Linked DNA regions of Homo sapiens: regions 1 and 2 are each linked to region 3. The links come from fine-mapping of genetic effects on gene expression. A gene starts in region 3. Each other region holds a variant in brackets. All regions are shown on one strand. Distances are between the middles of the regions.

Region 1 (11,142 bases), 39 kb after region 3:
ACCATTGGTATAAAGAGTCGGGTTGTGGAATGAAAGCCTAGATAAAAAGTGTGTTTATTTAAACATTGATTTTTCAATGAGATGGGAAAATGGCCCAGATCTCATGATGTCTCCAATTAAGAGATTTCCTTTGTGGGGGTATGAGTATGAACCCTTATTTGGCAGTATCTGTTCCTCTTTGCTGTCGTAGCTGCTTCCTGTTACGTGAGGTGCCCCTCTTCCTCCTCATTCTTAAATTTTGAAACTCTTTTTAAGGTTGGACTTAATTTTATCACTACAGTGCAGGTTTTTTTTAGACCAGAGACTTCATCGGCTCATGTTTGCTGCTGTGTTCCCAGCTTCATAACCATGCCTAGAACATAGAAGGTGCCCAATCAATAGTCACAGAATAAATGAAAGTATAATAGCAGACATTTAAATCTTGGCCGGAGCCAGCCTCTCCTAGGGAGCGTAGAAGTGGAAGCATGAGGAAATAGGTAAAACTTGGAGATAGCAGTTGTGAGAAGTGTCAGAGGGATCATTCAGCACATGCATTTATTTAACAAATGTTTATTAACTTCCTACTAAGTGCCTAGCACTGTACTGGGGACTAGAGGTACAATGGAACACCAAAAATACTTCACCTGCTCTCATGGAGTGTATAATCCAGTAGAAGAGACAGAGATGGATGATTAAAGGGAAAGAATACTGTTTAATGACAGTGTATGTCTGAGTAACCAGACCTCGACTAGGGAGGGGATGGAGGGTGGTTGACGTCAAGGTTGAGCAGGTATTAACTTGGCCCAGAAGACAGGGAACTGTGCTCTAACCAGAGGAAACATCATTTGCAAAGGTATGGTGATGAGGGAGGAGGGTATATACTCTAGGAAGTGGAAAGGACAGTGTAAAAGGACAGCAAGAATGTTGTGCCACAAGGCCGGTGCAGTAGGCAGAGACCAAAAGCATTTAGGGTTTTGTAGGTTATACTAAGAGCAGCTGAAGACCATTAGAGGGTTTTAAGCAAGGAAGGATAGCCTGGTCAAGGTTGTGTTGTAGAAAGATTTTTACTCTGGTATTCTATAAAGCAAAATTTCTGAAGGACCAGGGGAAAGATGAATAAAAGAAAAGCCTCCAGCACCACACACCAGATATGTTGTATACCTTAATTTACTGAAATCAGTTTTCAGAGGCTTGAGACTATCCTCTGTGTGGTAGCACTTGGAAGCCTGAGTGAGGAGACAAGATGATAAATAATTGGGTTGATCTAGGACTGGGGAAAGGCAAACCCAAAGTGGCAAGGAAATGAAGACATTGAGGGTGCTAGTAAGAATATTGAAATGATTGATCTTGGGCTTGAGAAATGCTAAAGAAGGAAATAAAACCAGTATAAGAATTCCTAAATCAGTGGTCCCCAACCTTTTTGGCACCAGGGACCAGTTTCATGGAAGACAATTTTCTCACGGATGAGGGGTGGGGGTGTGGTTTCAGGATGATTCAAGCGCATTACATTTATTGTGCACTTTATTTCTATTTACATTGTACTATACAATGAAATAATTATACAACTCACCGTAATGTAGAATCAGTGGGAGCCCTGAGCTTGTTTTCCTGCAACTAGATGGTCCCATATGGGAGTGATAGGAGACAGTGACAGATCATCAGGCATTAGATTCTCACAAGGAATGCACAACCTAGATCCCTCTCTTGCACAGTTCACAATAGGGTTTGCACTCCTGTGAGAAACTAATGCTGCTATTGATCTGACAGGAGGCGGAGCTCAGGCAGCAGTGTGTGAGATGAGTGGCTGTAAATAACAGATGACGCTTAGCTCCCTTGCCTGCTGCTCACCTCCTGCTGTGTGGCCTGGTTCCTAACAGGCCAGGGAGCAGAACTGGTCTGCGGCCCTGGGAGTTGGGGACCCCTGGTCTAAATTATATGAGTCTATGAAGTTTTAGACTGGTAATTCCCAACTGAAACTTTTGCAAGATCAAAAAGAAAAGCAATTATGTTTGAGTTGAACTATTTAGTGTATCCTTATTAGGAGTCTATGCCAGGCTCTATATATGGCACTAAGGATAGAGAGGTAAGTGAACCATAGCTTTACCTTATGAGAACTGACAACAGAGTTGTACAGATGCCAATTGCAATGAAGATTTTAAGTATGTTCATTCTTTTTGAATCTATTACCTTTTGCCAGCCTCTGTTAGAAACAGGCATTTAAATTTTTGTAGGCAACCTTAATTATTGAAACACCATTTTTAACTATAGCTATATTTAGTTCGTGTGCTTCTACTGCTAGAATATTTATTTTTTTCAAAAATTCTACTTTAACACTTATTCAAAGTTTGTAGAAGCGAAAACTGAAAGAGCCTCTAATGATCACTTAATCCACTTTCTCAGAGTGTGGTATGTGTGTACCACTGGTCATAAACAGGATGCTTTGTAGATAAAACACAATCAAGCCTTTTTAATAGTTATATATTTCAGTGTAGGTTAAAAATATATTTAGCATAGCATACCATGATTCATGGACCTTATGAAGAGATTAAAGTCAATTTTCAGATTTTAAAAATGAGTCAGTTTAAAGAAAAATATTAATGGCATAGGTGTTACATGACTGAAGTTTGGGAAATACTAATCTAAACCAGCTCCTACATTGTGTAGATGAGAAAACAAAGGGGTTCCCCACACACAATGACTTTTCTGAGGCATATAACTAATATACGGCAGAGCTAGGACTAGAACTCAGGTTCGTTCAGTACATTCCAGTGTTTATTCTGCCATACAAGGCTGATGCTTATTACTAAAGTTGAAGAAACCGCTGTCTTAGTATGACATTGTACTTTAAATCTCCATTGTTCATTACGATGACCACATATGGTTATTTATATTAAAATTTGTTAAAATTAAGGTTTAAAATTTGAATTAGTCACATTTCTAGTGCTCAGTAGCTACATGTGGCTAGTGGCTACCATATTGGACAGCATGAACATGAAACATTTCTGTCATTGCAGAAAGTTTTATTGGGCAGTGCTGCTTTAAACTATTGCTTAGGAATATGATTCATAAGTTTTCCCCCCTTCAAAGGGATAATACTTATTAATTTGCTTACCACACTGAAGTTGTTATAACTCTGAAGTTAAGCTGAAGGTACTAGTAACAGTGCAATTAAGATAATTGATCATGGGAAATATAGCCAGGATGGGATTCTCAGATTCCTACCAGCTCATTTTATTGGAAGTGGTTGTTCTTTCTCCTTTTTTTTCAATAAATATTTTCTTGAATTCATAGCAGATAGAGAGAAGAAATACAAATATATTGAAAAAGAGGGTTCTTGAATAGAGAATTTTCTGACTTTCTGAATAGTTTATTCAACGTAAGAATTATATTTTGCTGATATTTTAAAACTTTTTATTTTTAAACATTTTCAGTGAATGGACCTGAGTGGACCCTTTGATCACATCAGTAAACATGAGCGGTACCAAACCTGATATTTTATGGGCACCACACCATGTTGATAGATTTGTTGTGTGTGACTCAGAACTAAGTCTTTATCATGTGGAATCTACTGTGAATTCAGAACTCAAAGCTGGATCTTTACGTTTATCTGAAGACTCTGCAGCTACATTACTGTCAATAAATTCAGATACACCCTATATGAAATGTGTTGCCTGGTATCTTAATTATGATCCTGAATGTCTGCTGGCAGTTGGACAAGCAAATGGTCGAGTTGTACTTACAAGCCTTGGTCAAGATCATAACTCAAAGTTCAAAGATTTGATAGGAAAAGAGTTTGTTCCAAAACATGCACGACAATGTAATACCCTTGCCTGGAATCCACTGGATAGTAACTGGCTAGCTGCTGGTTTAGATAAGCACAGAGCTGACTTTTCAGTGCTAATATGGGATATCTGCAGCAAATATACTCCTGATATAGTTCCCATGGAAAAAGTGAAACTTTCAGCAGGTGAAACTGAAACAACATTATTAGTAACAAAACCACTTTATGAGTTAGGACAGAATGATGCTTGTCTGTCTCTTTGTTGGCTTCCACGAGACCAGAAACTTCTCCTTGCTGGTATGCATCGTAACCTAGCTATATTTGATCTTCGGAATACAAGCCAAAAGATGTTCGTAAATACAAAAGCTGTTCAGGGTGTGACGGTAGACCCATATTTCCACGATCGTGTTGCTTCCTTCTATGAAGGTCAGGTTGCAATATGGGATCTTAGAAAATTTGAGAAGCCAGTTTTGACATTGACTGAGCAACCAAAACCCTTAACAAAAGTAGCATGGTGTCCCACTAGGACTGGTCTACTTGCCACTTTAACAAGGGATAGTAATATTATTAGATTGTATGATATGCAGCATACACCCACTCCCATTGGGGATGAAACTGAACCCACAATAATTGAAAGAAGTGTGCAACCTTGTGACAATTACATTGCTTCCTTTGCGTGGCATCCAACAAGTCAAAATCGAATGATAGTTGTAACTCCCAACCGAACAATGTCAGACTTCACTGTTTTTGAAAGGATATCTCTTGCCTGGAGCCCAATTACATCTTTAATGTGGGCTTGTGGTCGTCATTTATATGAATGTACGGAAGAAGAAAATGATAATTCTTTAGAAAAAGATATAGCAACGAAGATGCGTCTTCGGGCTTTATCAAGGTATGGACTTGATACAGAGCAGGTGTGGAGGAACCACATTTTAGCTGGAAATGAAGATCCACAGCTCAAGTCACTCTGGTATACTCTGCACTATATCCTTTTCATTGTGAATTTTGTGAGGTGAATCAGGTAGAAATGTTCTTGAAGTTTGCCAAAAGGTCAGTCTGTAAATATGCTCAATGTTTTATATACAAATACAAGTTACATAATACTAACATTATAAAGTAAAATTGTTCTAAACTTTCGAACTTGAAATACTGCTTTGTAGATTGTGTAGGAGGAAGAAAAGTGTATCTCTGCAATAGAGTCGAACCACCTTATTTACACTGATACTTATTATGAATTGGCTCCAAATCAAAATAAATTTAGCTTTGAAATATATTGTCATGCATCACTAGTATTTCCTATGCATTTAAATACTTATGAAGCAATACACAGAAGATATGGATCAGAAATCTCCAGGCAACAAAGGATCATTGGTTTATGCAGGAATTAAATCAATTGTAAAGTCATCGTTGGGTAAGAAAATTCTATTTCATTTTCTCCAATATGTTTATAACTTTTGTACTTTTATTTTGCCCCCTGTCATTTGGCAGAAATTATCTAGTTATTTCAGGATCATGTACATAATTTTTTTTGTTTTCTGATTGGATATTTCATTGTATTGTTGAGTTAAATGCATACTTGTATTTATATCCAAAACCCTTTTTGCAGGGAGTCTTAATTCTCTGAAGTGATGTTGATCTTCTTAAATCTATCCACACGTTTATTCAATGTTATTTTTTTGAAAACCCACTTTGAGAGGTTTTACACTAGACAATTTACAGATTACTGATTGTTAGTTCAGGTTTTATCGCAACATTTTGCTTCTTAAAAACTAAAAAGATCTCTAATTGAAGGAGATCCCTTTTTATTTTGCTCCTCAAATACTTTCATTGAGCCATCTAACAGCAAGGAGTATGATATGAAATATGGCCTAACGTGGAGGAATTATACCTGATATAGTCCTTGGTTAATTAGTGAATGAATTAATTAACGTGTGAGTTAATGTAGGATTGAAAATTGGTATGGTAAACTATTAAAGAATAAAAGTGACAAAAACCAAACTTTTTTTTTTTTCTGACTGCTTTAAACAGTTGTTCCTATTCTTTTACTGGAATTGAATAATGGGTTATATTAGAATTGCAGGTTGAGTATACCTTATCCAAAATGGCTTGGGACCAAAAATGTTTCAGATACTTTCAGATTTTGAAATATTTGCGTTATATACTTAGAGA[T/C]TGACCATCCCTATTCTGAAATCCAAAATGCTCCGATGAGCATTTCCTTTGAATATCATCTCAGCACTTAGAAAGTTTCAGATTTTGAAGCCTTTTGGACTTCAGTTTTCAGATTTGGGATGCTCACCCTGTATCTCTGTGATCTAGGATTCGTTCTCTAACTTTTGGTAAGTCAAATTTGGGCCCAAGTCAAGCTGTTAGAAAAGTAGTTAACATTATTTAGTCAAAGAGCAGTAATAGAAGTAGTAAATCCAATTTGATTTTTTACGGAGCTTGTATCAGTACCATACAAACAAAATACAAAATAATAAAATATTTTAGAGTAGGTTAAGTGTTTTAATTAAACTGTTACATTATAGTGTTTTTTTAACGTCTTTCAAATTACTTTGGTTCACTTTACTGAAAGATGCAGTAGACTACTTACTGATCAGTTTGATTTTATTGTTTTTGTATTAGCCCTCCACCAAAAAAAGTAACCTTTATTATAAATAGTAAAATGAATAAGTTTAGTTAGAAGCTGCTGTTTTTATTAACATAGGTAAAAGGGCACACATACTGTTTTACTCCCACAAATGAACCTGGTACCATGGTTCAAGATTTTAGAGCCATTGCCTATTGCTACAAAGAATTAAACACCAAGTTTATAGAATTTATAGTGTTTTAGCTATATAGTAGATCAGGCCACACTGCACTCAATTATTTAGAGGTTGGTTATTGTGTTTTTTGTATTTTGATATATTTTAAGGAAAAGCCAGCATCTGAGGAAAAGCAAAAGGGGAAAATGTAATATGTTTATGTTTCTGGTGCACTAGAGACAAACTGAGTATCCCACCCCTGTGTCAAAATAGTCTCTACCCAGACTAAAGAAACACTACTGTTGGAAAGATTTCCTCATTCATCATTCTCTCATTGCTAGGTTTTCAGCTTTTTTTTTTTTGTTTGGTATAGATATTTTTGTTTCTACTACCCAAAGGTGAAAAGTAGAGAAATACTGTCAAATATGCCACTCTTAGATTTCAGTCTTCTGTTTTATTTGGCCATACCTTTTCCTCTAATTGTATCTCTAATAATCAACACATGGTAAGTCAACACATTGAGCCATCTTGTCCACAGTAACCTAATACACAAGTTTATTAGAGCATACAGCTAAATTTTAATTTTGGTAACAAATAGTATATATATAAGTGCTTGCTATGAATTAGTTGCTTTTCCCATGTTACTTTAATTTTTACAACTACAATATGAAGTAAGCTCATTCATTCAGCAAGTATTTATTACCTACATGCATGCTATATGCCAGGAGTTATCCTAGGAACTAGAGACATAACTCTCAAGAAGATACATAAATCTCTTCCCTCATGGAGATTGAGCAGGATCAATGTCATCCCTGCTCTTGAGGAGTTTATATTCTAGTTTAGAATATAGACAAGTAAGCTGGCAGTTATAACATAGGGAAGAACAGACAGTTAATTACAGGAAGGACTCCTAATCTGGTTGCAGGGATTAGAGGTTTCTCAGAGGAGGTACAGTTAAAGACAAGGTCCAGACAGGGAGCAGCATGTGCAGTGGACCCAGAGGGTAGAGAGCATAGCACATTATTATGGCTGAAACAGAGCATGAGAGAGGAAGTGAGGAAAGAATGGAGGCTAGAAAGGTAAGCAGTGGGCTAACTCAAGAAAGACTTAGAAATCATGTTAAGAATTTAGGGAGATTCATCTTGTAAGACGGGGAAACAGATGGATTTGTGACAGATTTGTGTTTTAAAAGGATCAAGATTGATAGTAGGGATATCAGATAGAAGCCTGCTGCAAGGAGGCAAGACGTGATGCTATCCTTACCAAGGTTAGTAGCAGAGGAGCTAGAGAAATGTGGATACATTAGAGAATAGGAGAAAATTTAATGATTAATTAGATAAAGGGGTGGAGAAGATGGAAAAGTCAAAGGTAGCACACATATATTTAGTTTGGGAAACTAGTTAATTTTAAGTATGTTAATTAGGAATAACACAGGAAGAGTATTTGGGTTTATTTTGGAGCAAGTTGAAATCAAGATGCTTAGGTAGAGACGTCCATTGGGCAATAGGATATCAGTTCAAAGCCCAGGGGAGGAATATAATGTATGTCAGAAATAAATGATATTTGATAGAGTAAATGGAATTGTTTGGAGTAAGAAAGAGATGGCTTAAAGGAGACTGAGGCAGATTGTCGAGAGATGTAGGAGAAAGATCTATATGACAAAAACCGCAATCACTTTTGTACCAACCTAGTATACATTCATGTGGAAGAGAGGTCAGTTGTCCGGTGCTCCATGCTTCAGATCCAGCCAAATAAGAACTAAAAAGGACTCACTGAATTTAGGACTAGGAGAAGGTCTTTCACTGGCGGTATGGATAGCAAATTGCAGTTATATTAGAAATTCAGAGTGGGTTGAGGAAATGAAGTAATCAATTATAAATACTTTTTTTGAAGGAATTTGACTATATAAAGGAGGACAAAAAGATACGCAGTAGGAGGAGACAAATCTGGAGCCGGGAGCTTTGTGTTGCTTTATTTCTGTTTTCAACATGGGATTAATTTAAGCATGTTTAAATGCTAATTGAAGGAAGCCCATAGAGGTTAAAGATGCAGAGAGAAGGGAGTGAAGCGAAGTTCCTAGAAATGGGAGGGAATGGGATCCAGAGCACAGGTTTCTTTAGCTTTAGATACAAGGGTGCACACCTCCACATTTGCCAGAGGAAAGGGGGAAAGGATGCTGTATGCAGGATGTTTGAGTTTCAATAACCAGAGGCTGAGGGATTTCCCATTTTATGGCTGCTGTTGAGAAGGAGCAGGGAGGTCGTAGGAAGAGGATATGGAGAAGAGGAGAGAGAGCTGTCTTGAGAAATATGGGAGGATTACTGGGTAACATTATTTTACCAGAAGGCAGAATAAAGGACAGTAGGGCAAGATAATTAAATATATTGGCAAGAGAGTGGTTCACTTGACCCTTGGGATCTTATTTGGATAGAGATGAAAATGAAGACAGGATAAGACTGATAAGTAAAAATAATAGTGGTGAAGACACTGCGAGGTTGTGAAAAATATAAGGAAGTGAGATTTTTGGAAGGCTATGTGGTTGTGGTTAGAAAGTAGGTCTTTTGGAGGAGGACAGTTTCAAGTGTGGCTGTGAAAGGAGTAGCTAAAGTCTTGGAGGTGTAGACCACTGGAGATAAGGAAGCAAAGGAACTGAGAGGCTAGTTTATTGAATGGGCTAAGTGCTTAGATCAACCAGGATGAGAAGAATGCATGCTCTGAGGGAATCTCTTCTACAGACCTGTATAGCAAGTTCACAGTGTTATTAGTAGGTATAATTCCTTCCTTTTAAGATGGCAGAAAGTTGTATAAAAAATATTGGCCTGCTTTAATCCATCATGAAAATAATATTTTTCATGCTTAAAGAGTAAACTCTACAGTTCCGGCTACTCAGGAGGTTGAGATAGGAGGATCGCTTGGGCCCGGGAGTTTGAAACCAGTCTGGGTTACATAGAGACCCTGTCTCTCTTTTTCTTTAAAACAAACAAACAAAAAGGTAAAATCTAATCTAGAGAACTGAGAATTTGTCTATGCAAAATGACTTCAAGGGGCAAAATAGCTAGGATTTCTTATAAACTGGATAATTGTATTGCTTAGTTACTACATAGATATTAAAATGAAACAAATTAGTAGCTACAAAGAGCATAGTATCTGATTGCTGATTTGAAAGAAATGTTTAAATCCTAATTTTTTTTTTTTTGGAGACAGAGTCTCTCTCTCTGTCACCCAGGCTGGAGTGCAGTGACACAATCTTGGCTCACTGCAACTTCCACCTCCTGGGTTCAAGTGATTTTCGTGCCTCAGCCTCCTGAGTAGCTGGGATTACAGGCGCATGCCATTACACCTGGCTAATTTTTGTATTTTTTGTAGAGACAGGGTTTTGCCACATTGGCCAGGCTGGTCTCAAACTCCTAACCTCAAGTGATCTGCCTGCCTCGGGCTCCCAAAGTGCTGGGATTACAGGCATGAGCCATCGTGCCTGGCCTAAACCCTGATTTTTAATGTTTAAATAAACTTGTTTTCCTCGCAGCCATCAGTAAAACGTTTTCTGTTATTTATGTATAGGACAGTCTCAAATTTAGGAGATAAAATTTTGTTACTTTAGTGGTACATAACATGCATAAATATATTTTACTTCGTTTTCAGAGATATATTAAAAATTTATATGTAAAACTCATAAGTTAAAACCCATGCTGACATCATATTGCTTATTTGATAATTCTGATAATCAACTGTAGCATAGTTATCAATAAAAAGATCTCTAAGCAGAAAAAATATGTGATACAATAACCATGTTCTTAACATGCAGGACATATTAATATTTCTACCTCCTAGCAGTGACCTCTTTGAATTCATTTTCAGTCATCTACTGCACAATGACGTTTCTGTTAACAATCGACTGCATATATAATGGTGGCCCCATAAGATTTAATACTGTATTTTAACTTTACCTTTTCTGTGTTTAGGTACTCAAATACTTACCATTGTGTTAGAGTTGCCTGCAGTATTCAGTACAGTAACTTGCTATAAAGCAGAGGTGTCCAATCTTGTCTTCCCTGGGCCACAATGGAAGAATTGTCTTGGGCCACACATAAAATACACTAAGAATAGCTGATGAGCTAAAAAATAAAAAAGTTCTTAAAAAATCCCCCCAAAATCTCATAATGTTTTAAGAAAGTTTACAAATTTGTGTTGGGCCGCATTCAGAGCTGTCCTGGGCTGTGGGTTAGACAAGCTTGCTTTATAGCCTAGGAGCAACAGGCCCATGTAGCCCAGGTGTGTAGTGGGCTATGCCATCTAGGTTTGTGTAAGTACACTGTGATGTTCATACAACAACGAAATTGCGTAATGACACATTTCTCAGAATGTATCCCTACTGTTAATCAACTCATGACTGGATTGTTCTCTATTCTGTTCCATGACATGATTTCTATAAAATAAAAACTCTTTGAGAAATTAGAATATTATTATTAAGCTGTAAGGAACCATTTGAAAAATAAATTGCTGATTTTTGCTCACCTGTTTTAAAATTGTATTATCACTAAATACCAGCTTTAAATCCAAAATTTATAGGAGAGATATGAAAATACACACCTTATAATACATCTCAGCCTCTACCTGAAATTAAATGACTGCATTCTG
Region 2 (11,142 bases), 68 kb after region 3:
ATTAAATATCTTATACCTGGTGGCTGGAATTATTCCAGCTCTTTACCTAACTTGAAAATGATACTGTGGCACAATTTTCAATTAAAATCATTTTGGGTATTTGGCACACAGGTGTAATGAATAAAGAACTGGTTAGAGTGTCAGAATGTCTGTTTTAATTCTAACTCTGTGACATGCAGTCTGTGACACTGAGAGTTACTTGCACCTTCCTCTGGACTGGAGATCCTTTCTAGTGCAGACATTTTATAATTCTATTCTGTATCGTGTTCATTTAAGTAGTCTGCTTTATCATTACATTAACATTTATGAAAGACTTGCTGGTATCATTGGCTTAGCGATTATTTTTCCATCTAGATGCTTTTTTTAAAGAAATGAAGAGAATATGTAATGTTTTAAATGTACATTTTAGTTTTGATTTAAATTTTAATCAAGGATTTTTATTTTATACATTACATACTGATCACTGTTTTATGTTAACTCTGGTCCTAATAAACAGAAAATAACAATTTGGAATATCTACAACAATGAGAGCTCGAGGTAAAATATAGCATAAATAAGACATATATGTGTATGAACTGAGATATATAGAAATAATTAAATGTAACACATCTTTTGGACCATAAGCCTCAGGAAGCTATAAGGATTATTTGCATTCTTACACCTGGGCACTCTTCCTTTTTGCTGAATACCAGTTTTTCAATCTTTTCTATTTTTGAAATAGGTAAGAAAAGAAAATAATTTTCTAGAATTTGAAGAAAAATCTTAAAACATTTGAAATTCTTTGTTATGATGACTAATATAACGAATAGCACTCAGGTTTATCAAATATTAACATTTTTCCATATTTGTTATAGAATTTTTTTCCATATTTGCTACAGAAATAATTTCTTTATATATATAATACATATTTGAACACTGATTTTACTTGATACATTAATATAATGCTGATGTGCTGAGATGAATAAATCAAAGAACCTCTTGGAGCTCTTGGTGTGCAATAAGCATAGTTAACGAATATAAAATAAGTGATATTTTCTAGAAAATAAATACTGGTCTACAATGCCTTATCTGTCATTTCAAAGTCTCTAAAAAGATCTGAAAATCCAATGCCTTTTAAAAATAAAATTACGGTAATCTCATTTGACCACAAAACCTGTTCAGAATTGATGTGAGGCTATTAAGATATTTATTTCTCTTATTTATTAGTGAATATTCATCTTTCACTACAGAAATACTAACGAGTTTGATTACAGGGTGCTTTAGACTTCCCTCAAGGTGTACATATTTGCTACTTTTTTCTAAAATCCCAAACATCCTGGATTCTGAAACACATCTAAACCCCCAACATGAATTAGGACTATTATATAAGGAAAGAATTAGGAATTTTGAAAGTGGGAAATATTACTTCTATCTGAAGGATATCTGGAAAGCTTTAGGAGGAAGTTACCATTTAAGCCAGTCCTTTAAAGTTTGGTAGATTTAATATATGAAGATTGCAGGGAAGCCGTCCAGGTTGCAGACCAAGTGTAAAAAACATGAACTAGGGTGAAGAGATTGGTAAGTATTATGATAAGTACAGGGGGTGTTTGGGAAGAGCAAGTGTATTGTTGTGAAAGGACCTAGGAAGTGAACTGATAAGAAACAGTAGGAAAATTAGGGAGAGCCTGAATATGATCTTTAAAGGCATTGCTGAGCTAAGTTAGAGAATAATCACTCTTTATAATAGCAAAGACATAAAATCAACTTCAATGCCCATCAGTGGTGGACTGGATAAAGAAATGTGGTACATACACAGCATAGAATACTATGCAGCCATGTCTTTTGCAGCAGCATGGATAGAGCTGGAGGCCATTATCCTAAGCAAACTAACACAGGAACAGAAAACCAAATACCACATGTTATAAGTAGGAGCTAAACATTGAGAACATATGGTCATAAAGAAGGAATAACAGACACCAGGGCTTACTGGAGGGTGCTAGGTGGGAGGAGGATCGAAAAACTACCTGTCGGGTACTATGTTTATTACCTGGATGATGAAATAATCCGTACACCAAAACCCCCATGACACGCAATTTACCTGTATAACAAACCTGCACATGTACCCCTGAAACTAAAGTAAAAGTTTAAAAAAAAGAAAAAGAAGCAAATTATTTTTTTTTGGCATGTGAAATCAGAAAAGTCCATTTCCAAAGTAAAACAGGATCTAATAGAAATCAAGTGCTGGATAATTGGATAAAGAGTCAAGACCCATCAGTGTGCTGTATTCAGGAAACCCGTCTCACGTGCAGAGACACACATAGGCTCAAAATAAAGGGATGGAGGAAGATCTACCAAGCAAATGGAAAACAAAAAAAGGCAGGCGTTGCAATCCTGATCTCAGATAAAACAGAGTTTAAACCAACAAAGATCAAAAGAGACAAGGCCATTACATAATGGTAAAGGGATCAGTTCAACACGAAGAACTAACTATCCTAAATATATATGCACCCAATACAGGAGCACCCAGATTCATAAAGCAAGTCCTTAGTGACCTACAAAGAGACTTAGACTCCCACACAATAATAATGGGAGACTTTAACACCCCACTGTCAACATTAGACAGATCAACGAGGCAGAAAGTGAACAAGGATATCCAGGAATTGAACTCCGCTCTGCACCAAGCGGACCTAATAGACATCTACAGAACTCTCCACCCCAAATCAACAGCATATACATTCTTTTCAGCACCACACCACACCTTTTCCAAAATTGACCACATAGTTGGAAGTAAAGCACTCCTCAGCAAATGTAAAAGAACAGAAATTATAACAAACTGTCTCTCAGACCACAGTGCAATCAAACTAGAACTCAGGATTAAGACATTCACTCCAAACCGCTCAACTACATGGAAACTGAACAACGTGCTCCTGAATGACTACTGGGTACATAACGAAATGAAGGCAGAAATAAAGATGTTCTTTGAAACCAACGAGAACAAAGACACAACATACCAGAATCTCTGGGACACATTCAAAGCAGTGTTTAGAGGGAAATTTATAGCACTAAATGCCCACGAGAGTAAGCAGGAAAGATCTAAAATTGACACCCTAACATCACAATTGAAAGAACTAGAGAAGCAAGAGCAAACACATTGAAAAGCTAGCAAAAGGCAAGAAATAACTAAGATCAGAGCAGAACTGAAGGAAATAGAGACACAAAAGACCCTTCAAAAAATCAATGAATCCAGGAGCTGGTTTTTTTTTTGAAAAGATCAACAAAATTGATAGACTGCTAGCAAGACTAATAAAGAAGAAAAGAGAGAAAAATCAAATAGACGCAATAAAAAATGACAAAGGGGATATCACCACCGATCCCACAGAAATACAAACTACCATCAGAGAATACCATAAACACCTCTATGCAAATAAACTAGAAAATCTAGAAGAAATGGATAAATTCCTGGACACATACACCCTCCCAAGACTAAACCAGGAAGAAGTTGAATCTCTGAATAGACCAATAACAGGATCTGAAATTGAGGCAATCCTTAATAGCTTACCAACCAAAAAAAGTCCAGGACCAGATGGATTCACAGCCGAACTCTACCAGAGGTACAAGGAGGAGCTGGTACCATTCCTTCTGAAACTATTCCAATCAATAGAAAAAGAGGGAATCCTCCCCAACTCATTTTATGAGGCCAGCATCATCCTGATACCAAAGACTGGCAGAGACACAACAAAAAAAGAGAATTTTAGGCCAATATCCTTGATGAACATTGATGCAAAAATCCTCAATAAAATACTGGCAAACCAAATCCAGCAACACATCAAAAAGCTTATCCACCATGATCAAGTGGGCTTCATCCCTGGGATGCAAGGCTGGTTCAACATACGAAAATCAATAAATGTAATCCAGCACATAAACAGAACCAAAGACAAAAACCACATGATTATCTCAATAGATGCAGAAAAGGCCTTTGACAAAATTCAACAACCCTTCATGCTAAAAACTCTCAATAAATTAGGTATTGATGGGATGTATCACGAAATAATAAGAGCTATCTATGACACACCCACAGCCAATATCATACTGAATGGACAAAAAACTGGAAGCATTCCCTTTGAAAACTGGCACAAGACAGGGATGCCCTCTCTCACCACTCCTATTCAACATAGTGTTGGAAGTTCTGGCCAGGGCAATCAGACAGGAGAAGGAAATAAAGGGCATTCATTTAGGAAAAGAGGAAGTCAAATTGTCCCTGTTTGCAGATGACATGATTGTATACCTAGAAATCCCCATTGTCTCAGCCCAAAATCTCCTTAAGCTGATAAGCAACTTCAGCAAAGTCTCAGGATACAAAATCAATGTGCAGAAATCACAAGCATTCTTATACACCAATAACAGACAAACAGAGAGCCAAATCATGAGTGAACTCCCATTCACAATTGCTTCAAAGAGAATAAAATACCTAGGAATCCAACTTACAAGGGATGTGAAGGACCTCTTCAAGGAGAACTACAAACTACTGCTCAAGGAAATAAAAGAGGATACAAACAAATGGAAGAACATTCCATGCTCATGGGTGGGAAGAATCAATATCATGAAAATGGCCATACTGCCCAAGGTAATTTATAGATTCAGTGCCATCCCCATCAAGCTACCAATGACTTTCTTCACAGAATTGAAAAAAACTAAAGTTCATATGGAACCAAAAAAGAGCCCGCATTGCCAAGTCAATCCCAAGCCAAAAGAACAAAGCCGGAGGCATCACACTACCTGACTTCAAACTATACTACAAGGCTACAGTAACCAAAACAGCATGGTACTGGTACCAAAACAGAGATATAGACCAATGGAACGGAACAGAGCCCTCAGAAATAATGCCACCTATCTACAACCATCTGATCTTTGACAAACCTGAGAAAAACAAGCAATGGGGAAAGGATTCCCTATTTAATAAATGGTGCTGGGAAAACTGGCTAGCCATATGTAGAAAGCTGAAACTGGATCCCTTCCTTACACCTTATACAAAAATTAATTCAAGATGGATTAAAGACTTAAACGTTAGACCTAAAACCGTAAAAACCCTAGAAGAAAGGCAATACCATTCAGGACATAGGCATGGGCAAGGACTTCATGTCTAAAACACCAAAAGCAATGGCAACAAAAGCCAAAATTGACAAATGGGATCTAATTAAACTAAAGAGCTTCTGCACAGCAAAAGAAACTACCATCAGAGTGAACAGGCAACCTACAAAATGGGAGAAAATTTTTGCAACCTACTCATCTGACAAAGGGCTAATATCCAGAAGCTACAATGAACTGAAACAAATTTACAAGAAAAAAACAACCCCATCAAAAACTGGGCAAAGGATATGAA[C/G]AGACACTTCTCAAAAGAAGACATTTATGCAGCCAAAAAACACGTGAAAAAATGTTCATCATCACTGGCCATCAGAGAAATGCAAATCAAAACCACAATGAGATACCATCTCACACCAGTTAGAATGGCGATCATTAAAAAGTCAGGAAACAACAGGTGTTGGAGAGGATGTGAAGAAATAGGAACACTTTTACACTGTTGGTGGGACTGTAAACTAGTTCAACCATTGTGGAAGTCAGTGTGGCGATTCCTCAGGGATCTAGAACTAGAAATACCATTTGACCCAGCCATTCTATTACTGGGTATATACCCAAAGGATTATAAATCATGCTGCTATAAAGACACATGCACACGTATGTTTATTGCAGCACTATTCACAATAGCAAAGACTTGGAACCAAGCCAGATATCCAACAATGATAGACTGGATTAAGAAAATGTGGCACATATACACCATGGAATACTATGCAGCCATAAAAAATGATGAGTTCATGTCCTTTGTAGGGACATGGATGAAGCTGGAAACCATCATTCTCAGCAAACTATCGCAAGGACAAAAATCCAAACACCGCATGTTCTCACTGACAGGCGGGAATTGAACAATTTGAGAACACATGGACACAGTAAGGGGAACATTACACATCGGGGACTGTTGTGGGGTGCGGGGAAGGGGGAGGGATAGCATTAGGAGATATACCTAATGCTAAATGACGAGTTAATGGGTGGAGCACACCAACATGGCACATGTATACATATATAACAAACCTGCACGTTGTGCACATGTACCCTAAAACTTTAATAATAATAAAATTTAAAAAAAAATAAAGTGCTGGCTAGTGGCTCGAGTATCTAAACCTCCCTGGTGCTTTGCCTGCAATCAGAGATTGCATCCATCCATCATGCTTTGTGATTCAAATAGCTGGAATTTCTATAAGCTTATTTAACTGAGAGTTGATATTTTTATACTCAATTGTGCTTTGAAGATTAGAAATCTGTTGAAACAGTTCTAACATCATTATAAACATTATAAATATTATTTATTCAACAAATGTTTATTTGGTACCTATTGTTCCAAGTGCTAGAAATGTTACAGTAAAGAAGACAAAAATCGCTGCCCTTACAGAATTTAACTTCTGGACAATGACACATTTTTTAAAAGTTAGATTATCTACTGGTTTCCTTCATTTTCTTCTTACATTATGAGTTAATGCATAAGTGAAACTCTAGTTTCGCCTAAAGTGTTCTGTGGCACTTGTCTTCATAATTCACTATAAATCTTTTAAAATTTGAAGTCATTTGATCTTAAGCCTTTATACTTGGCAGTGAGATAGACCTTAATACTTCCAGTTTCGTCAGAAAAATATAAGGATATGCCTTGTTCTGATTCAGTCTGTTATCTGTTTATGTTAGAAGTTACAAAAACAAAGTGACAAGCACTAATGAGAGCTTTACACAAAGGTGTAAAGTAGTGTACATATCAGATCTATATTTTATTTATCTCTTCCCCCTTTCCTTTTTGCCCTCTCATTATTAATTGTTGGTGACCCTTTCAGGAGTAATTCTAGTGTGTTTACATCTTTAATCATTGAATTACTTACACATCCTTTCACCTCATATCATTAGCAAAAACGGATATTTTTTAAAACTATTCCCGACTGCAAGATTATCCTTTTGGTCATGAAAGCGTGACCTGCAATGGTCCAAGCAAAATTTTTAACATAGTTATCGATGCATAATGTCTTTATAGATAGCAATTAAGTAAAAATATTAAGTCTAATTAAGCAATTGTTTAAGTTACACAAGTCTCATGAAGTGCATTGGGAAACTTTCTGCTTTTTCTCTTCTTTGAAAGGGCTTGTACAGATGAGAATTACCTGTCCCTTGATAGATTTTTTTTTTTTTTTGAGACAAAGTCTTGCTCCATCACCCAGCCTGGAGTGCAGCAGTGCAATCTCGGCTCCCTGCAGCCTCCAATCCCCAGATTTAAGCAATTCTTGTGCCTCAGCCTCCCAAGTAGGTGGGACTACAGGCATGTGTCACCACCCCCGGCCAATTTTTGTATTTTTAACAGAGACGGAGTTTCACCATGTTGGCCAGACTGGTCGTGAACTCCTAGCCTCAAGTGGTCTGCCCGCCTCAGCCTCCCAAAGTGCTGGGATTACAGGCATGAGCCATCACACCCAGCCCTACCTGTTCCTTGAATGTTAAGTAAAATTCACTTGTAAACTGGGCCTGGTATTTTCCTTGTGGAAAGATTTTAAACTACTGATTTGGTCTCTCCAAAGTTTTAAATTTAGATTGTTTCTTAGTGGGTTTGGATTTTTTTTTCCATTTTTATATTGGCTATTAAAAATGTAGGGGAGCTTCTGTCATTCAGTTTCGCTTCATCTAAACTAGAACCTACCATCAAAATTGCTATTTCAATATGATGTGTGATTCATATTTGGAACACAGTTTTAGAAATGCTTTTTGAAAGTAACTTTAAATAAAATATTATGATATAGTTAATGAAGATCATTTTATTTTGTCATAGGAGGAACCAAATCAGATGAAAAAGTGGACTTGAGCAAGGACAAAAAATTAGCCCAATTTAACAACTGGTTTACATGGTGTCATAATTGCAGGCACGGTGGACATGCTGGACATATGCTTAGTTGGTTCAGGTAATCAGCACATTTCTTCTTTGATAGGCTTGGAGTTATGGGGGATAACACAGATTGCTTCTAAATAGTTTGGGTTTATCTATTAGCATTTAGCCAAAGTATGAATTTTATTTTTTACTGTCACTCATGTTAACAAAGGTGGTGTGAACATGTCGTGATTAGATATCCTATGTAACCTTAAACTATAAAGGTAATACTTATGTAAGAACTAATTTAAATGTTTTGTATGAGTTAAATGTTTGAATAACATTATTTAACTTTATTCGGGGAGAGGATATGTTTACAGTTTTTACACTGAATATTCTGTAATTTACCATGCAATTGAATTACTAATGAAATGTTAAAAGAGCATATCATACCTCTGCCTCAGTTCTCTTCTAAGTAAGCTTTTTATGTAGTCACGCAATTAAGACTGTCAAGACATATTTGAATTTCATTTTGAATGGTGCCAGTGGCCCTGTGCTCCTGGTTGATACAGCATTTATACCCAGTTTGTCTTACTAGCTAATTTAAACTCTGAGCACATCCCTGTCACCTTCACAACTATAAATGAAATATCTTGCCATATATGTAGAAAGTAAAAGGTATGTGTTTCTTAACTTCTCCCTAAACTTCAGCTTGGCAGTAGTTTATAATTTGATGCTTTTGATGCTTTTTTTCTCTGGGTTTTAGTTTCTATATTTTTCCAAATGCCATTTTGAAAAGTTGCATTATAGATAGATATAAGTAAACAGGTGGGCACAGTGGTGCACACCTGTAGTCCCAGCTACTCAGGAGGCTGAGGCAGGAGGATCACTTGAGCCCAAAAGTGTGCGTACAGCCTGGGAAATATAGGGAGACCCTGTCTCTTAAAAAATAAATAAATAAATAAATGTATGTCTGTCTAATTTGGATTTTTAACTGTTATTTGACCTATTTTTTTAGGGACCATGCAGAGTGCCCTGTGTCGGCATGCACGTGTAAATGTATGCAGTTGGATACAACAGGGAATCTGGTACCTGCAGAGACTGTCCAGCCATAAAATGTTACCACCTTAAGAGAACCCTTCAAGTGTGGAGCTTTCTAGTAGGTGTCCTTCATAGCTCAGAAACATACCTCAGAACAAGCCATTCATGACTTACCTGTAATGGGAAAATAAATCATTCTATCAGATCAGCAGTTTTGATGTTTGAGTGATTTTGATATGCTTCACAGAGACAAATGCTGCCAAAATAAACATCGAAGTATAGACATGAGTTCTGTTCAGCAGGTTGAAAAGTCTGATTTAGAAAAACTTTCTAAGTTTTGGTTGAAATTATGAACACTCTAGAAGCAGAATTTCTGGAAGAGCCAAGAACAGACTTTGAGCCTATATCTTCAAAGCTGAAACTGGATATCTTTCAATAAAATATGTGCACTTTTAAAATAAAATGACTAATTCTGTGATTCAGACAATAGTTTTAAGTTCAGCTGTGCTTAGATTTCTTTCAGATTAATTTAAAATTACAGATTTTTACTTTTAGAATTGCAGAGCCCCTATCCCACACTGGAGAATATTTTTTATTACTGTCTGTTATATATGTGTCTATGTGTGTGTGTATATTTATGTGTGTATGTATAAATATGTATTTTTTAAAGGAGCCTTTTCCCTCCTTTGATTTTAAGATAAGCAATCTTTTGGCATAACATTATCGTCTTCCTAGAAAAGCCAAGATGAAGAATCTATCTTACAACTTTTTCTCTTCAGTAGAGAAAAACATGTACCATTTCAGGTGAACATACAAAATTTTCACTTTCTACCTTTTGCCTTCCAATGTCCTGATTTGTCTTCAAAGGTTTTTCTCCATATTAATTTGTCATCTTATCCTCATCACCTGAGAACATTTTACTGCATACAAAGTCTATGCAAGATTATATGTAACTAGCCATTTAGTATAATCTATGTCAGTGTTTCTGTGCTGTCAAATTCCGTCCTGATTTGGAATACCATACCTTGTTCTTTCCAAGGTAGACTAGGAAGTGTTGGGGAAATGGGGTCACTTCAGAGACCATTTTAGATGTAAGTTTTTAAATGTAAGTGTTACTGGGGCTAAGTCAGGTACTTTATTTAAAACATTTTTTTTTCTCATTTCATAGCTAGATAGTTGTAAGAGAAATACAAAGAATTTACAAGATGCTTCTCTGTCATCTGCCATATGCAGAGGGACTGAACTAGGAATTTTGTAGTTGAAGCTGTGTTCATAAAGAGTAAATCTTATTTTATAGATTTTGGAGAAATAAAACAAGAATTTTAAGAGCTTTCGTATTAGCAGTTTTGCCTTATAAAAACTAAGATTTGTCAGATTAGTTTGAGGTGTAACCTAAATATTAAAAGTAGATTAAATTTATTTTTTACCTTGAGTGTCTGATACATAAAACCCTTTTCTAGGAAAACATTGGAAGTAGTACATATTTACTCTAAATGTCTCACCTGCATGACAGTCTTTTCAAATGAAAGACATGGTAATTGCAATTTTTTTTTAAAGATTGCTATTAAGGGTACTTTTTCCAGCCTTCATTTGAGTAAATCTTAATTGATTTCATTTTATTAACATATACCCTTTACCTTTAATATTTCATTTGAAGTGTTCCTTTCAAACTTACTGTCTTAAATATGAAAGTCAGCTTTAAGTAATGTCAGACTCATATGCATTTTCATTCTCATTAGCTAAAGTAAAATGTAAAATTATCTCAAATAGTTACAAGTTTTGGAAATACAGTATAAAACATGAATGTAAAGTCTATTATGTAATATGCTTATTTGTAATCCTAATATATGAGGGTGACATTTTTAAGATTGTATGTATGTGTCAACCTCTTAAATGTTTTCTGTGAAGCCCAAACATGCAGTTTATGTCTCTGGTGTCTGTTTTGCATTTCAGTGTGCATGGACAATCAAATTATTTTCTCATTTTTATCACTAAGTCACTGGTATTTGGGTTTATAAACTCAACAAGATACTTTACCTAAACATGATCAATAGATGTGTTTATTAAAAGTGTTTTTATTATTTTTAAAAGATTGAATAAATCTGGGTTGAAGTCATTGTATCTAATCAAGAAATTATGATTCCTTTACAAATAATCCACGTGAAGTAATATTG
Region 3 (11,142 bases):
ACACGGGCTGGAGCCCTCTGTTTTATGTTCAGTGGTGAGGACCCCTTAAGTCATGGCACAGGCAGGGCTAAGTGTTAGCCAGGAACCACTACAAATTTCCCTTTCATGCAAAAGAGCTGCTCAGAATGAGTACTTACCTTGAGCACCACAGGACTGGGCCCATCAGCTCTATCTCTGATCTAGGCATAACTCTCCCATTTACCCCGAATCCCCAAGGAAAAAAAGGCTAGAAACAATAGTAACTTTGGAGGAGGGCTGCTACCAAACTGTTTCAGAGCAGTTCTGATTGAGAAAATATTTTTTTAAAAAGCAGTTACTATTTCCTCTCTCAATATGCCTTTATAGGGTTAAGCATGCAAACTGTGAGGTCTTCACCGGCCTTAAATTTTCAACTACAAAATGGGTATAATAACATTACCTACATCATAAGATTGTGGCAAACATTGAATAAAATAAAATATATAAAGTGTTCAGGAAAATGCCTAATACAGAGAGAGTACTCAATACCTAAGAGCTATTATTTAGGTAAGAAAACCTCAGATCTTATGCTGAAAGCAACAGAGAGTAAAAAGATAAGAGTAATGTTGAGAAAAAGATCGAGGGATAAGACAAAAGGAGCAAAACAATCTCTGAAATAGAGCCTGAGTTTTCTGTGCAAGCTGTAGAAAACAGCCATATGAAACGCTCAGTACATAAAGGACACCTTTGCCTTCCTTTCTCAGGAAATCAAAGAAATCCAAGTTTTTAAGAAAATCAGTTTTTAACACTCAGCCAATCAACCAATTTATCTCTAGGCGTTTTCTCCTTGAGAAATATTGTGAAGAGGGATTTCCTTTTGATTGTGGTGCCGTGTGTTTTACAAAGCAGCAAGGAAAGGCTTTTATACACAGCTGAGCAACAAACAAAGAAAAGCTGACCAGACCTATCAAGTGGGACTCATTGATTTGATGGGAGAAACTGTTGCTTGACTGCAGGTTGCAGATGATTTTAAATTGGATGGGCTTGAGAACATCTAAGAAAGAAGGAGGTAATTTTAAAAATTGGAAGTCTATGAACTTTGAGTAGCATAATGTAACAATAGGTGAGACAGAGTCAAAAATACTCAGTCCTTTAGAAGAGTAAGAGAGAATATGTCAAGATTATGTCAAAAATACCTGTACAGATGTGGAATGGGAAAAGACCAACTTGGTACAAATATAGCCTAACACCTCAAGTTGAGCACAACCTGAATATAAGTCAGCAATGTTCATGATTGTAGGCTGTATAAACAGGAGCTTAAGGTATATGATTGGAAAATAACCCCTTCCAAAATCCTCAGCATCAGCTAGCAATAAAGTTAAAAATGCAATTCCAGGGAATTAGCCTGGAACTTTTCCAGATTGTCTGGAGTAAACTGCCAAGAAAGTGGAGTGACACTTCAGAAAGATTCTTCTTTCTGTTTTCAGTGTTAACTCTCATTTTCTCCATCTTTTTGACCCAGTATCTCTTCTTATGGGATTTACAACAAATATGTCAATATTATGATGATAACTGTATAATCAACCCATTAGGTACCTACCAGACGATCTTGAATTTTATCTACAAGGGTTGGATCACTCAACAGTAAAGTGGGTTCACTGGATGAATCCCCAGAAATCAAACGAAGTTTGGCTTCATTGACTACCGTAGAAAGTGCAATGGTGATAAATGATATTCCTGAAATTCTGGCATCTTCAGAAATACTTTGAACATCTGGATTCTTTGGATGGTCGATGCCATCAGTCATCAGCAAAACCACTTTCACACCATCCTTACGCCCTTCTCTCTTAAGTAGCCTAGTGGCATTGGAAATGGCATAATAAGAGAAGGTACCTTGCCCTATTAAATTCATAGACTTGACCTTCTGCTTAAATGTCTGCAGGTCCTTCCAGGAAGAAAAAGGTGGATCAATTTGGACAGAGCTGCTAAACTGAAGGGCTGCCAGTTTGATGTCATATTCCAAGGAGCGACCAGGAGTCAATTGGAAAATCTTGTCACTCAAGCTATCCACAAAATCTTTCTGTTTATCAAAGAGGGCAATTTTAGAACTTTCAGAGCTGTCCACGATGAAGACAATATCTATGAAACAAATGGAGCCTGAAACAGAATAAACAGGTTAGGCAAAATAATTATTCCTATCATGAAACAAATTTGCATACGGAAAGCCCTGAAGTGGTGTGTTGTATATTGTTTGGTGTTGAGAGCAGCGTGAGGAGAGAAAGAGAGACACGTTGGACAGAAGGCTTCAATTGTAAAAAACTAAATGTCTAAGTTTATGAATTATTTTCTCCTTGTAAAATCATGCAAATTAAAAATAAATAAGATATCTTTTATTCTGAGCATCTTTTCAATGTTAAACCTGCTGAAAGTGGGAGGAAATGGGAAGTCAAGATGCATCACATTTTAAAAATCCAACTAACACTGAGCATAGTTGTCTAGAAGTAAATGATACTCTAATTCTCAGGTTGTGTCATATTGGTGAGTCCCTATTTTTTTTTAAACTTTCTTGAAATCAAGGGAGAAAATGACTATACCCCCTATACCAAGAGTAAGTGGAGAAGAAACCTAACTTAAACACAACTTAAGTTTAAATCCCAGCTCTGTGTCTCAGTGGTTAATTTGCCTATGGCCTTGAGTATGCCACTCGACCTGTTAAGACCTCAATTTTTTTAATCTACACTATGAGTGGCAATCTCCGTCCTGCCTATTTTACAAGGTTACTGTGAGGCTCAAATGAGATAATAAGTGCACAAGTGCTCTTATTAAAGACTCTGATGTGCTATAAGTATGTAAGGTATATTATCATCATATAATTTTATCAAAGTAGACTATCACATGTATACATGTATATGGCTTGCTATTTATATCAAATGCTATTTAGAAAAATTCACATAAGTATTTTTAACAGGCTAAACTTAAAAACAAACAATTTTTTTTTTTTTACCCTGGACATCACTTTTCCTTGCAAGCAAATTTGATTTTGGTCCTTTCTTTCTTTGTCCGGATACTGTTTGACTCGTAAACGCTGACAAAAGCAGGAGATAGAAGACAAAATATCTGTTCCACATTATGGTAGATGGTGAAAAATCATCTGTCTTGTAGCACCTTTAATAGAAAAGTCAGTTACAAATACTTTAATAAAATATGGTGTTTGTTATTTTTAAATTTCAAGCCAGCAGGGTTGAAAACTGGCATGTGACTGGAAAAAAGAGGTTTTCATTCATATTTCTAGAAAAATATTCACATTGAGATTTTGAAAGATTTCAATCCAAATAAATCATGGCACCATGACCAAACATTTATTAGTGAATATTTCTATATATTCAAAGAACTATATTTAAGTATTCTTAATTCCGCATTGTATTTTGAGGAGCATAGAGTTGGGAGAGCCATTTAAAAACATTTCAATCCCGCTCTATATGATTACTGTGGTTCAATCACAGGGTCTGCTTTGACATTTCCAAATTCTTCAGGGGGAATTCAGATTGCTATATGGTCATTTCATTCACTTTCATTATAACTGATTCCTGACAAATCTAGTATTTTGTAGAACTGTAGACAACCACCACCCTTTCAGGCTTAATACTACACACATAACTTCAGTGAGTTCAGAGGTCAAGGTAAAAATTAAACGACCCTTCTGTTTCCATAGAACCCCATCTCTCTTTTCTACCCTAGCTTTGGAAACTTTGTCTCCACCAGGGGTTCAAAGCTGCATATGCAATGAATCAAAAGAGTATGAGAGCAAAAATAATAGATTTGCTTAAAAGCAACACTCTTCTTCCAGTGATGGCTAAAAGAACTAATGGACAGAAACGGGACTTAAAGCCAAGAAGCACCCCCTCTGAATAGCCCCGTGAAACTATTTTTCTGGGTGGATTAACAACGAAAAATCTAATTCTGTATTAAAATCCTCAATCTTCATCAGTCAATATGCCTAGCTACACACCAACTGACTCTTAAACTGACAGATTTCCCTGGGAGGAGAAGACTCATGTGTTGCTGCCTCAGTATACCCAAGAGAATGGGAACGAGAAAGCTTATTTCGAATCAATACTTAGTATGGCTTAAAAATGCTTGCCTGCTGAAACTTTATTGACTTCAGGAGTTCTGGAAAAGGAATCACATTTTCCTTCTTTGGCACCTTGCCTTTAGGGGATAAGAATCTGGGAAATCATGAGCACGATTTTTCCAGACTCTGAGTAGAGAGTGGAAATATATGCAAAGGCAGTGAGGAGTGAGATGGAGACTGACTTTTTTCATACATGCCAGATGGATAAACCCCAAAGGGAAACAAAACTGTTGGGTTAGGAGAGGACCAATGGATGGCTTCATGCCACAGTCTGCTCCTCACATAGCATCATCCAGCTGGAAGTGTATTAAAAGAACTTTGGATAGGTATGACCAAACATCTTGTGTAGCAATTGGCCAAATGCCAACTGATCCTCAGACAAGGTATACTAAAATGTAAAGACAGCTGGGTATTAAAAACAAAACAAAACCAAGAAATGTGCTAAGGAAACAGAACACACAAAGGCCATCTCTCCTCAAGTTGTCCCTTTGCTAACCAAGGAAAAAAATAAATGATGTACAACTTTAAGTCTGAAGGTTAGTGTAAAGATAAGGCTATGTGAAAAACACAGTTGTTATTGCATTTTCAAAGGGGAAAGGGAATAACACCATGGCCATGGTATTACATATGACTTTTCTCTTTGGTTGAGTTCATACCATAAGGAACATCTCAGAAGTTCTGGAAATAAGAGGCTGAGAACTGAATTCCATTGAGAACTGAGCAAGATTTTATAAGCAACATAATCAAGCAACTCTTCAAAACCCTTCATGTAAGGTTTTAGAAATACTGGCTTTAAATAAAGATTTATCTTTTCCCAAAACTAAGCACCTGCTCTTACTGTTTTCTTGGCATATAATCATGAATTTGTACCTGATCCCTGTATATATGATATTCACAAACATAACTTTTCCATTGACAATAATCCCAGTATCTCATATTTTGTTCTTATTTGCTCTGACATTGTTAATCTAGCTCTCCCAAACCAAAGTCTTGTTATTTCTTTCTGTTTCCCTATTGTAGCCAGAGGACATTTTCATACCTCTCTAGATTTGTTTCTCTAGCTTGTTAGTTCTACTGCTTCCCTGAAATATCTTTCTCGTTTATTAATTTGGCATCTTGAGAGCCCACTCATTTCTAATCACTTTTTACCATGTTTTATTTTGCCTCTGTTTTTAATAATTCTCACCTTTCTCTCTTTCTGATGTCACGTACAAGCAAAATAGGTTTCAGAGGAAACAGTGCCATTAGTTAAGTGAAAGAAATGTGAACCTCTGTGTTTACTATAGGTTACATTTTATAAATGCAGAAACAATCATAATTATTAATCAAATACCGTAGTTTTACTTTTGGCCTAAAATTTATTTGGGGTAAATATCAGGATCAGTAAATAAATCCAAGATACTTTATTTTTTATAATTTTTCAAAAATAAAATGATCTTATATCAGAGTTCACCAACTTTAGTTACAATGTTTGCATCTCAGTTTCTACACAAATAGAAAATGATTGAATAAAGACTTTATTCAAATTGACAAATTAGCCAAGTTGTAAAGTATTCTATAACTAATTCTGAATTGTAAACCCTGTTCCAAATTAAGAAAAAGATGTCCTAAAATATATTAACATCGTTGTAAAACAATTTAGAAGACTGTAAATTAAAAATCCATTTCAAAATAATTTTAAGTTTTAAATTTCTACATTTTAACAATGTTAATATTTTTCTAATAATTGATTTGAAGTAATTGCAGAGAATACAAACTATTGACAAGCTTTCTCACCTAATAATTATGTAAGTAAGTCATTTAGTCTTCCACAGTTCCTTGATGGTCCTATCTGATTTCAAGTGACTAAAATAAATCTGTTATGTCTTACCTTATAAAGTTTGTCAAACAGGAATTAAAGACTAGTTGAGTAAATGCCAACAGCAAGGACTGTGGTTGGGGGTGAAGTTAGCTATTTGATATTGTTCTGTTCTGTGGGAAATAAAAGTGTCTTTGCTTTAGGATCTTTTGCAGTCTTTTGTTCATGTTTATTCGACTAAGTCAAAGCAAGAGTGGTCAGGCATTTGGCCAGGGTGCAAGATCTGGGTGGGATCAGTAAGCAATTTAAAGGAACAGTGTCCTTTCAGAATGAGACTGTGTTTTCCAGACTATTGTAAAAACAACTTGAGAGAACTTTCTACATTTTAGGCATTGGTTGACAGCCTGCCTTTTTTTCTCATGCTATGTCCTTCTCTTTTTATTGCTACATTTCTTTGCCTGGGGGATGTGCTCTAAGATACTGGTTCTGAACATCTCTGTGAAGGAGTATAAATGACACCAGACTCAGAATCAAAGCTGTTTTTTTAAGAGAGGTAACAGTTTGATTGTTATTAAAGCTGGATGATGAGTACATAGGTGTGCATTGTTCTAGTCTTTGTATTTCTGTGATTTTTGAAATTTTTTATAATAAAAGGTATATATAATATACAGGGAAAGAGTGGTCTGAGTATAGTCATAGTTCTGCCCCTAACTTTTATGGGGGCTTCAGTTCCCCACTTATGAAATGAGAGAGTAGATTTAATCATTTATTAAGATGTGTTCGAACTGTAACATGAGAGGTTTACAGCGGTTAATATTTTGGTCTCTCTCTAGGAAAGGATCACTGTGGTTTTTCCACTCCCTGTTTCCCTATTTTCTACCTTGTGGTTATGGTCCATATTAAGTCAATGTTTATCATGTAATATATACTGCCAAGAAGCCACCTGACCCCTAGACAGCTAACAGGCAGGCTTCTCCACGGACTTCCTCTGAAATAGAGAATAGCAAGATCATCCGAGAAAGCAATACAAATGTGCATGTTACGGTTATTTAAAATGAACTTTCTTAGCCATTTTAATGTGTATGAATTTCCTTATTACAGCAATAATAGCCTCCAATTCATGGACACTTACCAGGTGCTAGGCACTGTCCTGAGTGCTTCACACACATTACCTCATTTAATCCTTCACAAGCACAACCACCTATATACAGTAAGTCCTCACTTAATGTCCTCTGTAGGTTCTGGAAACTGTGACATAAAGTGAAACAATTGATAATGAAGACAATTTTCCCAAGAGCTAATTGATATAAATAAGAGTTAAGCTCTTATGGCATATTCCTAGTCACAAAAACATCACTAAACCTCTAAATACTCAAAACACCTCTAATAATAAACATTGAAATAAATCTAAGCTATATATACATTTATGAAAGATTGATAAAAACAAGATAACTGCTTACCTGCATATTCCAGTTCAGGGTCACGGTTGACCAGATCCTGTCCCAGCAGCTGAGGATACAAGGCAGGAACCAGCCCTGGACAGGATGCAGTACTGTCAAAGGGCACTCATACACCCACCCACTCTCTCAGACAGGCACCATGTAGACACACCAATGCATCTAATGGGCAAAGCTTTGGGATGTGGGAGGAAACTCCAGGACCTGGAGAAAACCCACACAGACATGGGGAAAACATGTCAACTCCACACAGTGAGCCTGGCCCAGGAATTGAATTTTTTTTCTCATCAATGTTATAACAAAATGACATTGAACAAAATATTATTCCAGGACCCCTTGTACTTAGTAGATGTTGTAAGAATTCGAATTTTTCCAAGATGGAGGCAGAGAGAGGTTCAGTAACTTGTCCGCTGTCATACTAAAACCAGAGAATGGCAAAATGAACTTTTAACTCAGGCTGGTAAGACCTGTGAGCCTCACTTATAACAACTACTGCATCATTAAGTATCTATGCGAACGTCTGTGTTTTCACTGTCTCCTCCTCACAAAACAGGTTTCGAGGAACTGAGGAAGTTTTGTGAGGCTTTGGTAACAGAAAGAAGAAACGGTGGGTATAATGCAGAAATAACAACGGAATTTCCTAGGGAACAACCATGTATTTACCTGATAGCCTATGGGTGTTAGTCACACTTTTTACTTTTGTAAGATGAGAATCAAGAGACAAGGAAGTAGCATCTTTTCAGGTCAACTCTCTTTTTGCTGAGGCAGGTTAAAAACATGCAGAATAATAATGCCACTAAGAAGCAAACAGGTGATTCCTAGATGGGGGAAATGGACTAAAGCCCTCCTGCCTTGGAGCTGTTTTGATTAAAGTTGGTGGGAGGTTGGAGTCCAACTTAGTCATCCATTCCCTTTCATTCTCCAACATTAAATAGGGTAACTCAAACCAAAGATTTGCCACCTCTCATTCTCAAGCGTGAAAATCAGCACTAAATTAATTGGGAAGATTATGCAAAATAAAATCTTCAGTTTCATCAATCTATAAAAGACAATTAGTTTTGCACCCAGAGAAACAATGCACCACAATCTTAATCCCAACAGATGGTCTTGAATTAGTATGCTATTGGACTTACACCAGAACAAATAAGAGAGCATGGATAACCATAATGACTAGAAAAAGGCAACGTGGAGCCCATGCCCTTCTGACAGTTATTTTGTAGTAAAAGTCTTTATGGAAGAAATATAGCACACTATTTTCATTGTTACTACTATAAATAGCCCAGAGTAAGCAGTCATATTTGTGAAATAAATGATTATTAGAAGTAATTTTTAGTGTTTATCAGTCACTTGAGGTCTGTGATACAATAAATTGCTCTTCTCCAAAGCTCTGCTAGATGAAAATCTTTTTTCAACTTTTTCAAATTCTTTTAATATGCTACCATAGTAGCATCTGCATTGTGTTTATTGATTCTAGTACCAGTGCCAACATCTTAATTTCAGTGGTGATGATATTTTGGGGTCCTAGAATCATTTAAAAAGAGACAAGTCTGCTAGGACTTACATATTTCAGAGAATTGTATCTGCATGAAGTCATAGAAATACACACAAAAAAAGGCTGGTAACAAATCAAAGTTATATATTTTGACCAAGATTAAGGCATAGTATAGTTTCACAAGCTTCTCCCTATTTTAGCCACCTCCCACACTGCTGATCTAGAGTAGAAAAAAAAAAACATTACCAACTAACAAGGAAGAAATTAATGACCTTCGTACCTGATTTGAAGAAATTTGTTCTTGAAGATCCTTTCCTTTCTTTCTTTCTTTTTTTCTTTTTCTTTCTTTCTTTCTCTTTCTTCTTTTTGTCAGTAGAAAAGCTTGATATAGTAGAATTTCTAACACCTGCCCCAAAGCTCTGAAATTTCTGGGATTCATTATCCTTGGACCCAGAATATGACCTAGGCATTCTCTCAACTCCTTCATCAGTAATTAGAGGAACACTGTCTTAGTCCATTTTGTGTTGCTATAAAGGAATACCTAAGGCTGAGTAATCTATAAAGAAAAGAGGTTTATTTGGCTTACAATTCTGCAGTCTATGCAAGAAGCATGACACCAGCATCTGCTTCTGGTGAGGGCCATTGACTGCTTCTACTCATGGCAGAAGGTGAAAGGGGACCAGCGTGTGCAGATCATATGGTAAGAGGGAGCAAGAGAGCAGGGAGAGAGGTGTCAGACTCTTTTAAAGAATCAGCTCCCCCAGGAACTAATACAGAGAGAACACACTCATTACCGCAAGGATGGCATTAAGTCATTCATAAGGGATCCACCCACATGACCCAAACGTTTCCCATCAGGCCCCACTTCCAACAGTGGGGATGAAATTTCAACACGAGGTTTGGAGGGGGCAAATATGCAAACCATGGCAAACACCAAAACTGTATTGGTCTTATTTGTCAACAAAGGGAAAGATTAAAAGCATTCAAAGACAATAAGAAAATAAAAATTATCATTGGTAATAAAATACAGGATGTGGCATTGCTTAAATGTGGAACAGCGTGACTTCAGTTCCTATGCCCTCACCAAATTCTGATTGAGTTGATCCTTCCACATTCCCTCTACTATTTTTCAATTGTTACTATTATTTAATAAACTTTATGGTTTAGAGCAGTTTCGGGGTACAGCAACACGGACTCAATTATCTTTTATATCGTTTACTCCCTAAGATCTCTTGCTTCATTATTTGTCATTCAATCCCCAGCTTGAATAATTGTGTCACATTTGCAACACACAGTGCCTCATAGGCTACAGTGACAGGCTAAATTCCCGTTATACCAATCTTATGACTATTAATCTCTTTCTCTAAAATATTTTTTCAATATTAATATTTCTTCTTTCCATGTTGTTTATTCCTGACTAAATGCAATTATTTTAGACCAAAAATAAATCAAGGTGCCATCTGGAAAGTTTTACAATTTTTTTTCTAAGAAATATCTGAAAGTAGATTGATCTAGTCCTATCATAGGTTTGAATGTTCAATATTTTTCTTTAATTATTTTCTTTGGTCAATGGATAGAGCAGTTTTAACTTTTTCATGCAGAGCCTACAAATAGAGAAAGATCAGATCTATTTATACCTTGACTAAACTCTGCTTTAAATGGCAAAATATTTCTATTTTTCACTTAGTTCATTTTACTTTCAGATATTAGACAGTGTTATTCTAGATCTTGGTGAATTATTTGATAACCACTGATTGGTATTTAAACTTTTCTTGTATTGGGGACAAACAATAGTGTTAAATCTCTGAACTGGAAGGAAACTTAGAAACCACTTTTATTTAATTCTGCCATTTCACAGTTGATAAAATAGAGGACAGATATTAAGACCCACCCAAAGGTCAAATCATTAATCAGTGAGGGACTAAAATTTAGGTCTTTGTGCATCAAAGTGGCCATCTTTCATTATCTCTAAATGCCCTAGAAAATTTTTAGGCCTTTGCGCTATCCAGGCTTGTGCTTGAGCAGGAGAAAAAGGAAGCTGTATGGCTAATAATTTATATTTATAAGGATTTAACTTTAGTGGCAAATGGCTCAGAACAAATCATCATGGGCTAAGTCCCAGCACATTAAAGAGTCTCACCTCTCACTGTGTAAATCTTAGTGCCTGGGCCATTAAAGGCAATGAACACCACCTCTTCGAACCCTGGGTTGAAAAACTTTCTCCTCCAGGTTTGGACAGGTTTATCTGAGTAGCTGGGGATTGTTACAGCTACTTCAATAACTGATCCCTAATCAAAACATAGCC

Alleles and levels. Positions count from the first base shown, and alleles are read on the strand shown. Sizes are in standard deviations (SD) of each study's normalised expression.
For the expression in tibial artery of the gene that starts at base 6,084 in region 3, C is the high allele of the variant in region 1 and T is the other (small effect, 0.26 SD a copy in GTEx).
As copies of C replace G in region 2, the expression in hippocampus of the gene that starts at base 6,084 in region 3 goes down (moderate effect, 0.43 SD a copy in GTEx).

Evidence for each region. PIP is the estimated chance that this variant, and not a neighbour inherited with it, causes the effect. A credible set is the group of variants that fine-mapping cannot tell apart.
Region 1: its variant is the best candidate, but not a certain one, in a credible set for the expression of COL28A1 in tibial artery (GTEx, PIP 0.89).
Region 2: its variant is the best candidate, but not a certain one, in a credible set for the expression of COL28A1 in hippocampus (GTEx, PIP 0.66).

Annotation. Positions count from the first base shown.
Region 1 is chr7:7,569,026-7,580,167 of GRCh38, forward strand. MIOS (meiosis regulator for oocyte development) reads left to right here. Exons shown (of 13, transcript NM_019005.4): 4 at 3,411-4,744; 5 at 5,073-5,171. The coding sequence starts at 3,451. Among named protein-coding and RNA genes, the nearest start is that of MIOS, 7.7 kb to the left of the region's middle. RefSeq lists an enhancer at 227-286 and a silencer at 8,980-9,180. The variant T/C (reference allele first, on the strand shown) is at 5,930.
Region 2 is chr7:7,598,051-7,609,192 of GRCh38, forward strand. MIOS (meiosis regulator for oocyte development) reads left to right here. Exons shown (of 13, transcript NM_019005.4): 12 at 7,892-8,021; 13 at 8,946-10,882. The coding sequence ends at 9,042. Among named protein-coding and RNA genes, the nearest start is that of MIOS, 37 kb to the left of the region's middle. The variant C/G (reference allele first, on the strand shown) is at 5,360.
Region 3 is chr7:7,529,790-7,540,931 of GRCh38, forward strand. COL28A1 (collagen type XXVIII alpha 1 chain) reads right to left here and starts at 6,084. Exons shown (of 35, transcript NM_001037763.3): 1 at 5,961-6,084; 2 at 2,963-3,123; 3 at 1,559-2,115. The coding sequence starts at 3,086.